Homo sapiens: one gene and its partners. The protein of the gene in region 3 purifies or fractionates together with the protein of the main gene of each other region. This does not show direct contact. Each region holds a gene or a part of one and is shown on either strand. Other genes may lie near its edges.

Region 1 (3,500 bases), about 39 Mb from region 3:
CTTGGTGGGAGGTGCCTGTAATCCCAGCTACTTTGGAGGCTGAGGTGGGAGAATCACTTGAACCCGGGAGGCAGAGGTTGCTGTGAGCCAAGACCATGCCACTGCCCTCCAGCCTGGATGATAGGACGAGACTCCATTTCAAAAAAAAAAAAAAGTACAAAAATTAGCCAGGCCTGGTGGTGGGTGCCTGTACTCCCAACTGCTCGGGAAGCTGGAGTGAGAGGATCACTTGAGCCCGGGAAGTGAAGGCTGCAGTCAGCAGAGATTGTGTCACTGCACTCCAACGTGGATGTCCAAGTGAGACCCTGTCTTAGTTATCATCATCATCTCTATGCACACTGGGAATTAAACTTCGTGATAAACCCTATGTGTTTTCGAGGGAGAACTGTTTAAATTTACTTGAAGGTAGTATACTAAGATAATTTTGTGGACACTTTTGTTCAAATTGACTTATTTATTTTTATTTTTTATTTTTTTGAGACAGAGTCTCACTCCATTGCCCAGGCTGAAGTGCAGTGGTGCAGTCTCGGCTCACTGCAACCTTCGCTTCCTGAATTCAAGCAATTCTTGTGCCTCAGCCTCCTGAGTAGCTGGGACTACAGGAATGTGCTACCACACCCAGCTAATTTTTGTATTTTTAGTAGAGATAGGGTTTCACCATGTTGGCCAGGTTGGTCTTGAACCCCTGACCTCAGATGTCCACCCACTTCAGCCTCCCAAAGTGCTGGGATTATAGGCATGAGCCACCACGCTCACCTTGAGTTGATTTTAACTTAAGTGAAGTTCAACCTAAGCTAGCCCACAAATATTCCTTTGTTTCCCCCCCCCCCTTTTTTTTTTCCTTTTTTTGAGACAGAATCTAGCTCTGTTGCCCAGGCTGGAGTGTAGTGGCATGATCTCGGCTCACTGCAACCTCCGCCTCCCAGGTTCAAGTGATTCTCCTGCCACAGCCTCCTAAGTAGCTGGGATTACAGGTGCCTTCCACCACGCCCGGCTAATTTTTTGTATTTTTAGTAGAGATGGGGTTTCACCATGTTGGCCAGGCTGGTCTTGAACTCCTGACCTCAGGTGATCTGCCCACCTCAGCCTCCCAAAGTGCTAGGATTACAGGCATGAGCCACTGCGCCCGGCCAGATATTCATTTAAAAGATGGGTATGTAATACCTGTTACCTGTTAAATAAAATCTAGGATACTTGTCTAAGGTAATAGGGTATTTTTGTAACAATTTGTAGATTTCAGTCTTTTTTTTTTTTTTTTTTCCCCCGAGATGGAGTCTTGCTCTGTTGCCCAGGCTGGAGTGCAGTGGTGCAATCTCTGCTCACTGCTCACTGCAACCTCCGCCTCCCAGGTTCAAGTGATTCTCATGCCTCAGTCTCCCGATTAGCTGGGATTACAGGCATGCACCACCACACCTGGCTAATTTTTGTATTTTTAGTAAAGACGGGGTTTCACCATGTTTTGTCCAGGCTGGTGTGGAACTCCTGACCTCAGGTGATCTGCCCACCTCAGCCTCCCAAAGTGCTAGGATTACAGGCATGAGCCACTGCGCCCGGCCAGATATTCATTTAAAAGATGGGTATGTAATACCTGTTACCTGTTAAATAAAATCTAGGATACTTGTCTAAGGTAATAGGGTATTTTTGTAACAATTTGTAGATTTCAGTCTTTTTTTTTTTTTTTTTTCCCCGAGATGGAGTCTTGCTCTGTTGCCCAGGCTGGAGTGCAGTGGTGCAATCTCTGCTCACTGCTCACTGCAACCTCCGCCTCCCAGGTTCAAGTGATTCTCATGCCTCAGTCTCCCGATTAGCTGGGATTACAGGCATGCACCACCACACCTGGCTAATTTTTGTATTTTTAGTAAAGACGGGGTTTCACCATGTTTTGTCCAGGCTGGTGTGGAACTCCTGACCTCAGGTGATCGCCCACCTCGGCCTCCTAAAGTGCTGGGATTATAGATGTGAGCCACCACGCCCGGCCACATTTCAATCTTAATGCTATTCTTGGTAAGGGGTCCATAGACTTCCAAATTAAGGGCCAGACAAACATTTTAAGTTTTGAGGGCCACACAGTCTCTGTCACAACTGCTTTGACTCTGCTGTTGCATCATTAAAACAACCAGACAATATGTAAAAATGAGTAAGTGACTCGATTCTAATAATTCCATCTGTGGACACTGAAATTTGAATTTCACATAATTTTAAAATGTAAAAATACTTCTGGCTCACAGACTGTACAGGTGGTGAGCTGCAGACTGCCAGTCCTGTTCTAGATCATAAATGATAGCTGCCTGTTAGAAGAATGAAGTGACTTTTGCCTATGTATGCAGGTTTAAAATGTGAAGGATGCTTCTTGCCACCTAATCATAACAGTAACAAGCACTCTGTATCAAGAATCGTCTTTATGTGCATTTCCCTATTTCTTTCTCACACATCTGTTATCTTCTTAGTATTCTTATTTTTTAGGTGAGGAAACAAGGTAACCTACCTATGGTCATTTCCTTAAATTTGGAATATTCCATAACTAAATAAACTTATGTGACCATAGACCTCAGTGCATACAACTCTGGCTAATAAGCCAAGTTTCTGTTTTTTGTTTTTTTGAGATGGAGTCTCTGTCACCCATGCTGGAGTATGGTGGCACGATCTCAGTTCATTGCAACCTCCACCTCCTGGGTTCAAGCGATTCTCCTGCTTCAGCCTCCCAAGTAGCTGGGACTATAGGCGCCCGCCACCATGCCTGGCTAATTTTTTTAGTAGAGACGGGGTTTGGGGTTTCACCATGTTAGCCAGGATGATCTCGATCTCCTGACCTCTTGATCCGCCCGCCTCGGCCTCCCAGAGTGCTGGGATTACAGGCGTGAGCCACCGCGCCCAGCCAAGTTTCTGTTTTTATCCTTTGTTATTATCCAATAATTTGAGAGTTTTACCACCAGTAGTTTATTTCATTAGATAAGGTGATTTGGTAGTGTGACCATGTTAATGTTAATTCTGATTTCAGAAAGATGGTGTTTAACAAAGGTTGTCAATTGCATTTTTGTGGTGTAATGCGTACCCCCTAATTTTAATTAAATTTTAAAATATTTTAATCTAGAATAGAGTTATAACCTTGCAGAGGTTTGAGAATGTTGTTTATATACGAAGTGCTTCTCAGGCTGGAAGTATACAGTTATGGTTCACCTTACAGGTGCTGCTGGTGAGTAGCAGCCGGTACCCAGACCAGTGGATTGTCCCAGGAGGAGGAATGGAACCCGAGGAGGAACCTGGCGGTGCTGCCGTGAGGGAAGTTTATGAGGAGGTGAGATGTTCTTTCACACAAATTCTGTTTCGGAGTTTTAAAAACAAGGCCCTTTGCTACATAACACTAAGACAGCGAGACGGGTCCAGGAGTGCTTTTTGCCTGATGCAACTTTATTTTTAATTTTAATTTTTTTTTTTATTTTTTGAGATGGAGTCTCGCTCTGTTGCCAGGCCTGGAGTACAGTGGAGCGATCTTGGCTCAC
Region 2 (4,082 bases), on a different chromosome or scaffold from region 3:
ACATGCAATCCAATTATACTTTTAGTCATTTTTTAACGTACAATGAAATTATTGACCATAGTCACCCTGTTGTGCTATCAAATACTAGATCTTATTCATTTTTTATTTATTATTTTGGAATTTTAAAAATTTTCTGAAATTGAGATGAATTAATTTTGTAGTCAGAAAAAACAAATTCAGTGCCCTTTTTTAAAAAGGTAAATAGTAGAATGAGTGTCCCAACTGGAACCTAAACTTATGTCCACCACTAGGGTTTAAAGTTTTCCGGTAATGTGTGACATACTGAAGGGGATAAAGTCCTTTGGCATGTAGAACTGGGGGCTTTGCAAGGAAAAATTCACACTAACGGAAGAGCAGTCTGCAAACAAGTTTAGCTCAAGAACAAAAGCTAGGTTTTCGGAGAGGAGGAATCAATCTTTCTGGGCTGTGGATCTGTCTTCTGATCAGCCTTCTGCACTTAAGTCTAGGAGAGAGGGGGCCTACAAGTAAACTCTGAAGAATACTTTTTTCAATTTTTATTATGGAAAATTTCAAACATATACAAAAGTATAGAGAATAGTATAATGAACTCTCAAACATCCATCACACAGCTTCAGCAATTACCAATTTATGGCCAATCTTGTTTCATCTATGTACTCAATTACCCCACACTCAGATGATTTTGAAGCGAATACCAGTAACATATCATTTCACCTGTACATTTTTCAGTATACTTCTCTAAAAGATAATCATTTTTTAAAACAACATAACCACAGTACCATATCACATCTTAAAAAACAATAAATCAAGAAGTTATATTTTTATTTCAAATTATGTAACAACTGGGGACACAATCAATACATTTCACTGGTATCATGAGGAAGAGTGTCACACTAAAATGGAGTCCAAGCTTTTATCGATGCAATTGCTTTATAATATAAAAGAAAAAATCAAACAAACTAGCATATTAGAACCACTTTTGGTAATTTGTAAGGAGCTGAAGACTGCTGATATCACACATCCCATGGCAAACTCCGTAAGATTTCTTCTAAACATCTTTGTTATTTTCTTAAAATTGTTCTGGAGGCAGCTGATGCAAGTCCTCTTTTTTAAAAAAACCTTCACTTTGTGTTCCCCTCTAATAGCAGCCTCTTTCCTAAATGCCTTTTCTAAATGACAACAATTTTGCCCTCTCTCAGCCCTCTGCATTCTCATATGCAGAAACCAGGTAGGATGAGGAGCTAGCTGTGTGTACTGGAAAAGGGATGAAAACTACAGCCAAATGGATCAGTGAGAGAGGCAAAAGAAATCTAGACAAACTAAATGGCATAATTAAGTTTGGAAACTGCCTATGATATAGCCTGTTGGCTCTGGCATCAAATAATACAGTATGTTAAATCTGTAAAATGAGGAAACAGTGTTTCCTCAAAGAGATGTTAAGATGACATGTAAGAAGTGGTTAGGGCAGGCATTGCAAAAAAATGTCTTATATATCATTTTAAAATTTATTTTTATAAAAACTCACAACATTATTTTGCGTCCACTGTATTTATTTTTACAATTACCTTTATAGCAAGTGATAGTTTTTGAATAAAATTTAAGCAAATCATCAACAGTACAAAAACACTAGAGTTGTTACACGAAGGACTGATTCTACAAAACATTACCCTAGGTGATGGCATAATCTTAAAACTGTGCAGCTACTGTGTGGTATGACATAGAAATAGGAGTAATAATTCTTGTCCTCAAACATCTTACAACTGTCTTGAAATATTTCTGAAACACCTGATACACAAAAGCCACACACATGGTGCCTAGATAGCATATACTCTACTAGCACCAGATTGGAAGGGGAATGTTTTGCCACACGGTGATTACAAAATATTAATTGAATCAAAGAACCTTCAGTGATGCCAACCATATTTCAAGTAGTGTCTCAGATGCAGAATATGCAAAGAGTAAGGAAAAATAGTCTTTGCTCTCAAAGACATCATAGTCTAATGAAGGCAGACACATCAAAAAAGCACAACAAAAGGCTATAGGTGCTGAATTAAGAGTCTATTCACGTATAAGAGTACAACAACCAGAGCAAGAGTCAGTGGTATAGACAGGGAAGGAGTGTCCCAAGATGCAGGAAGAAACCAGATGAGCTGTCTTCTTGGGAACACAGAAGTGCTCACCTGTACTTGACAATTCCACTGATCACTGGGTTCACATCAATGTTTCTTTCAGCACAATACTGAACATCTTTGCTGTTCATCTGGAAAAACAAACCAACACACAATTAGCAGGCTTATGTTAATAATTCCTCCAACTGACAAATGTACCAAGAGCTTATTATGTACATCAATCACTTTGCATCAAGCACTTCACTTCCACAGAATTATCTAATGCAGATGCAATCAATGAGTCTGGATCAGCAACTGAGGGGTTATAAGCCAATGTATACCATGATGTAAAAAAGTCAGGAAAGCAGCGATATCAGAAGTTTTGTAAAAGAGGAGTGACCATTTAAGACATAAAATATCCTAAATTCCATGTTACAGACTCTAGACTCATGGAAATAATTCAGGCTGATTCCCACCCACGAAAGAGTTTTCAGTCCAGTGACCACATGGCCAAGAAAACAGATTAAGTACAATAAACTCTGCGAACCATGACACAGAAGAGGGTTTCTTAACCCAGGTGGTCAGGAAAGGCTTCTCATTGGAGATGTTTGTAAAGTGTCTATTTTTACTATCTCCAACAACAGATTTTTTTTTTAAACTGAGCGTCAGATAGTTAGATAACTTGGCTTAAGTTTCAGTGAGGAAGAACTGGAACTAGATCTGTCTGACTTCAAACCCCCAATGTAGTTTCTATCACATCATGCGCTCACTCTTTTTTTTTTTTTTTGAGACGTAGTCTCACTCTGTCGCCCAGGCTGGAGTGATCTTGGCTCACTGCAACCTCTGCCTCCTGGTTTCACGAGATTGTCCTGCTTCAACCTCCCAAATAGAAGGTATTACAGGCACGTGCCACCATGCCTGGCTGATTTTTGTAGTTTTACTTCATTAATAATTAGAAGTAGAGTTGGGGTTTCGCCATATTGGCCAGGCTGGTCTCCAACTCCTGACCTCAAGTGATCTGCCCACCTCGACCTCCCAAAGTACTGGGATTACAGGTGTGAGCCACCATGCCCAGCCCATGCTCTCTTATTCTTATAAAAGTGTTATGTTTTAGCACAGTCAGCATAGTAACTTCCACTTCTTATAGTGCTGTTTGCCCAAACATATTTAAAATCTGCTAAATACCATTAGTATTAATAGCTATCTTATCAAGAGACCACTACCAGGAAAATATTGTTTAAAGTCTTTCAGAGAGTACCTGGTGGCTCCCCCACAAGGGAATTCTAGAGGTGAAAGCTCTGCCAGGCAAATACACATTTTCTAACTGTAAACAAATTGGCATTCTTATACTAACCTTCTGAAATGAAATCACAGAAAGAATTTAAAACCTTTACATCAATTGTTGCAAATGAATCTATGCAAATAAAGCAACAAAATTATTTTCGAGTTTCTTCCCTTTAGTTTGTTTCTTTAAAGTGTAGTCAACAGATTTTGTATCTAAACACACACATACTTCTTGAGAAAAACTGTATATATTATAGACACAGCACCAATTGTTTCCAGTATATGCATCTATATTAATGTTTCCTCTTTATATATTCACAAGAATAAAACACTTGACCAGCTGAAAATGTAAGCTATTTATAAAACATGCAGAAAATAAATCTGATTCATGTCTGCAAACCTCAATTGTCTGTGTACTCTTTTTCCTTTCTTTATCAAGACAGGGCTGTAAAATTTAGGTGTACATTTTTCTGCTATCACAAAAGAAATAATGTACAAGTGAACTCTACTACTCTTAGAAGGAAAAAAATCTCAACTATACATCAAATTTTGGAGCACTGAAGTGGCAGAAATTTTCTATATACTACCTCTGTTCTAAAGAAATGTGGTGCCACTGTTCCGAAAACAAATCTTATAACACATTTAAGTATAGGTAAACAAAGTACAAATCTCAGTTTTTCAAAACATTTTCTGTACTAATGCTTTTAACTT
Region 3 (3,500 bases):
AGTGAGCCATGATTGCACCACAGCACTCCAGCCTGGGTGACAGAATGAGACTCTGTCTGAAACTAAGAGGAGAAAAAAAGGAGAGAAGGAATAAAATATTACTTTTTTTTGTTTTTTTGAGACAGATTCTCACTCTGTCGCTCAGGCTGGAGTGCAGTGGCGTGATCTCGGCTCACTGCAACCTCCACCTCCCAGGTTCAAGTGATTCTCCTGCCTCAGCCTCATGAGTAGCTGGGGTTACAGGCACCCACCACCACACCCGGCTAATTTTTGTATTTTTAGTAGAGATGGGGTTTCATCATGTTGGCCAGGCTGGTCTTGAACTTCTGACCTCAGGTGATCCACACACCTCAGCCTTCCAAAGTGGTAGGATTACAGGCGTGAGCCACCGCACCCGGCTGGAATGAAATATAACATTTTTAAAATGTATTAAGCTCCTACTGTGTGCTACTCTTATTCACTCAGGTCCGACCCCTTAGTCCTTTAACTACCTGGGGCTTCCTTTTCTTTTCTTTCTTTTCTTGTAGCAGTGGAGGAAAATGAGGCTGGTTAAGTGAAGTGAGCTCTGAGACCTTGTGTGACTTTGTTTCCATTGTATCCATTTGCATTAAGTGCAGTGAGCTCTGGCGGAAACCACCCTCTGCCCCGTCTGTTGGATCCATTTGCAGAGGCCTTGGCAAGGGCTCGCGTGATCCCCGTCCTGCTCACCCAGGCCTGACCTGCGGAGGGGGCGGAAGCCTGCAGCCAGTGCCTGTCTCCTCCCTCAGGCCACTACTACGTGCCCCTCCTGAGAGCGGAAGAGACTTCTTCTCCAGTCATCGGGGAGCTGTGGTCCCCAGACCAGACGGCTGAGGCCTCTCACGTCAGCCGCTATGGAGGCAGCCCCAGAGACCCGGTACTGACCCTGAGAGCCTTCGCAGGGCCCCTGAGTCCAGCCAAGGTGAGCTGCTGTAGAAGCTTCTGGAAGTGGTGCCTGGCTGTCCCTATACTGTGCTGCTGGGTGTTCCAGCCTGTTGCCTTGTGCGTGGTCTCAGGGACCATGTCCTGTGGAGCCCCAAGGTTGTCCTCATCTCAAACCATCCACCAGTGATTGGTGATGAGAACGTTTGTCAGAGAAATGTGTGTTCTTGGCTCTGTGGCTTGCTTACCAGGGCCGATGTGCTGGGAGCCACTGTCTCAACAAAGCAGACATTCCCTGGGCCAGCCCCGTCCTGTGCGCGTGTCGCCCTGTTCTTGCTGTGTTGATGGCCCGTCCTAGGCACCTTGCTGGTGTAGCGAGGCTGCCCGTTGTGACTAGGAAAGCTCCATCTGCACGTCCACCTCCTGACCACGTTTCCCTGTGGCTGCAGCCCCCGCTGGCTTCCTCTCAGACAAGTCCCTCTCCTGGAAGCCTCAGCCCCAGGTTCTACTCATCCCCAGTGTTCAGAGAAATCCTTAATGGTGGTGTTGCTGGGTCAAAGGTTGTACACTTTTTTATTTACAGTTGACAATTCTTTCTCCTGTTGGAATACTTCACACACTGACCTGCACGCACCATCCTGTGCTAGAAACTTTCTAAATCAGTTGCGATGAAAACGGCTCCAGGCCGGGCGCCGGGACGCATGCCTGAAATCCCAGCACTTTGGGAGGCCGAGGCGGGTGGATCACGAGGTCAGGAGATCGAGACCATCCTGGCTAACACGGTGAAACCCGTCTCTACTAAAAATACAAAAAATTAGCCGGGCGTGGTGGTGGGCGCCTATAGTCCCAGCTACTCGGGAGGCTGAGGCAGGAGAATGGCCTGAACCCCGGAGGTGGAGCTTGCAGTGAGCCGAGATCGTACCACTGCACTCCAGCCTGGGCGACAGAGCGAGACTCCGTCTCCAAAACAAAAAAGAAAATGGCCCCAAAATTAGGTGGTATCAGGTAAGGTTAGGTGAGATGCATAAAGCATAAAGCTCTAGGGAGAGTGACTGAGAAAGATCTGGTTTCTTCTCCTGCGATGGGAGCAGTGTCACATGTGCGTCGGGGTGGCAGCTCCGAGCCGTCCACTGTCCTCAGGGTGAGGCCTCGTGCTCGGGCCCTCCTGGTTCTGAACCTCACAGCCCAGACGGGGCTGCAAGAAAGGAGACCGCCTCCCCTCCCCCAGGTCAGAGTGCAGCCGTGCGGCCACTCAGCCATGCCACAGGTGGGCACGTGGCCCAGGGATCTGCTAGTGAAGGGGAGAGAAGGAAGGGTGTGCGGAGACAGGCAGCTACTGCGATGACGACGGCTCTTCAGGTTTCCGCAGCTGAGGGGCGCAGTGCCTGACACGGCTCAATACATTTTTTTTTCTTCATAGGCAGAAGATTTTCGCAAGCTCTGGAAAACTCCACCTCGAGAGAAAGCAGGCTTCCTTCACCACGTCAAGAAGTCGGACCCGGAAAGAGGCTTTGAGAGAGTGGGAAGGTACTGAAAGGCTGAGCCGCAGCAGCGTGGGGCACACAGTTGGTTGCATTTTGATTAATGACAGAAGGTCAAATCACAGCTTCAAAGTACCAATTTCCAGAAGGCTTTTCTGGGAGACTTGGTCCTTTTCGTGAAGGTCTAATTCCTTGTGGATGTTGTGGAATTCTAGCTTAAGCCAGTCCCGTCCCAGACCTGGGGGATGTCTGCAGTGCCTTCCTTTCCTTTTCTAATTGGAATTCCTTGTTGGTTCTGGGACATGTTTCTAAGGAACCTTAATATTTTATAGAAGGTACCATATAATGCTATGGATTCCTTGGGAAAAAATAGGCCATAGCCACAAAGCTAAATTATGCTGTAATCAAATAAAGCTTCGTGGAATTGTTTAGAATATTTTCTCAAAATATGTGCCCAGTGTCAGGTGTACAACTGGAACCCAGAAAGGACCTCCAGGCTTTCGTGTGCCTGGCCATGACTAGAACCACGGGCAAGTTCACAGGGCTGTTCCGTGATCATGAACACGTCCGTCTGTGGGAGTTGAACTGTGTGACCTGGGTTGCTGGCGTGAGGGTCTGTCGGGCTGAGGCCTCCTTCCTGCCTGCAGCCGGTTCACGGCTCCTGAGAGCTGTGCCGGGTCCTGCTTACCTGTGAGGAGGCGTGCTGTTTCAGAAAATGCACCGTATGATTTCAGCTGCCAGTTAAGGATAAAGGAAAATTATAACCATGATTGCAGACATTGCTTTGGTACTTGAAGCTTTAGTGGCTTTTTTCTGTGTAGTTCTGAGTATTTTTTCTGGTTTCACAGCTGGTTAATTGTGTTTTGTTTCTTACAGGGAGCTAGCTCATGAGCTGGGGTATCCCTGGGTTGAATACTGGGAATTTCTGGGCTGTTTTGTTGATCTGTCTTCCCAGGAAGGCCTGCAAAGACTAGAAGAATATCTCACACAGCAGGAAATAGGCAAAAAGGCTCAACAAGAAACAGGAGAACGGGAAGCCTCCTGCCGAGATAAAGCCACCACGTCTGGTAAGCATGTGCAGGCGTGGCTGTGGCAGCTGGGAGGGGCCCCCCATGGCCG

Evidence for each region. The genes of interacting proteins can lie anywhere in the genome.
Region 1: the proteins of ANKLE2 (region 3) and NUDT4 purify together in Homo sapiens (affinity purification with mass spectrometry, with the first as the bait; one large-scale study listed by BioGRID). This does not show direct contact.
Region 2: the proteins of ANKLE2 (region 3) and NUDT11 purify together in Homo sapiens (affinity purification with mass spectrometry; one large-scale study listed by BioGRID and IntAct). This does not show direct contact.

The regions. Positions count from the first base shown.
Region 1 is NC_000012.12:93,391,425-93,394,924, forward strand, and holds part of NUDT4 (diphosphoinositol polyphosphate phosphohydrolase 2), read left to right. Parts: intron 1-3,184; coding exon 3,185-3,295; intron 3,296-3,500. UniProt on the Homo sapiens protein: Cleaves a beta-phosphate from the diphosphate groups in PP-InsP5 (diphosphoinositol pentakisphosphate), PP-InsP4 and [PP]2-InsP4 (bisdiphosphoinositol tetrakisphosphate), suggesting that it may play a role in signal transduction.
Region 2 is NC_000023.11:51,489,511-51,493,592, forward strand, and holds the end of NUDT11 (diphosphoinositol polyphosphate phosphohydrolase 3-beta), read right to left. Parts: intron 2,240-4,082; coding exon 2,239-2,239; 3' UTR 501-2,238; downstream 1-500. UniProt on the Homo sapiens protein: Cleaves a beta-phosphate from the diphosphate groups in PP-InsP5 (diphosphoinositol pentakisphosphate), suggesting that it may play a role in signal transduction.
Region 3 is NC_000012.12:132,734,333-132,737,832, reverse strand, and holds part of ANKLE2 (ankyrin repeat and LEM domain-containing protein 2), read left to right. Parts: intron 1-612; coding exon of another isoform or gene 613-620; exon of another isoform or gene 621-757; intron 758-767; coding exon 768-940; intron 941-2,320; coding exon 2,321-2,427; intron 2,428-3,257; coding exon 3,258-3,448; intron 3,449-3,500. UniProt on the Homo sapiens protein: Involved in mitotic nuclear envelope reassembly by promoting dephosphorylation of BAF/BANF1 during mitotic exit.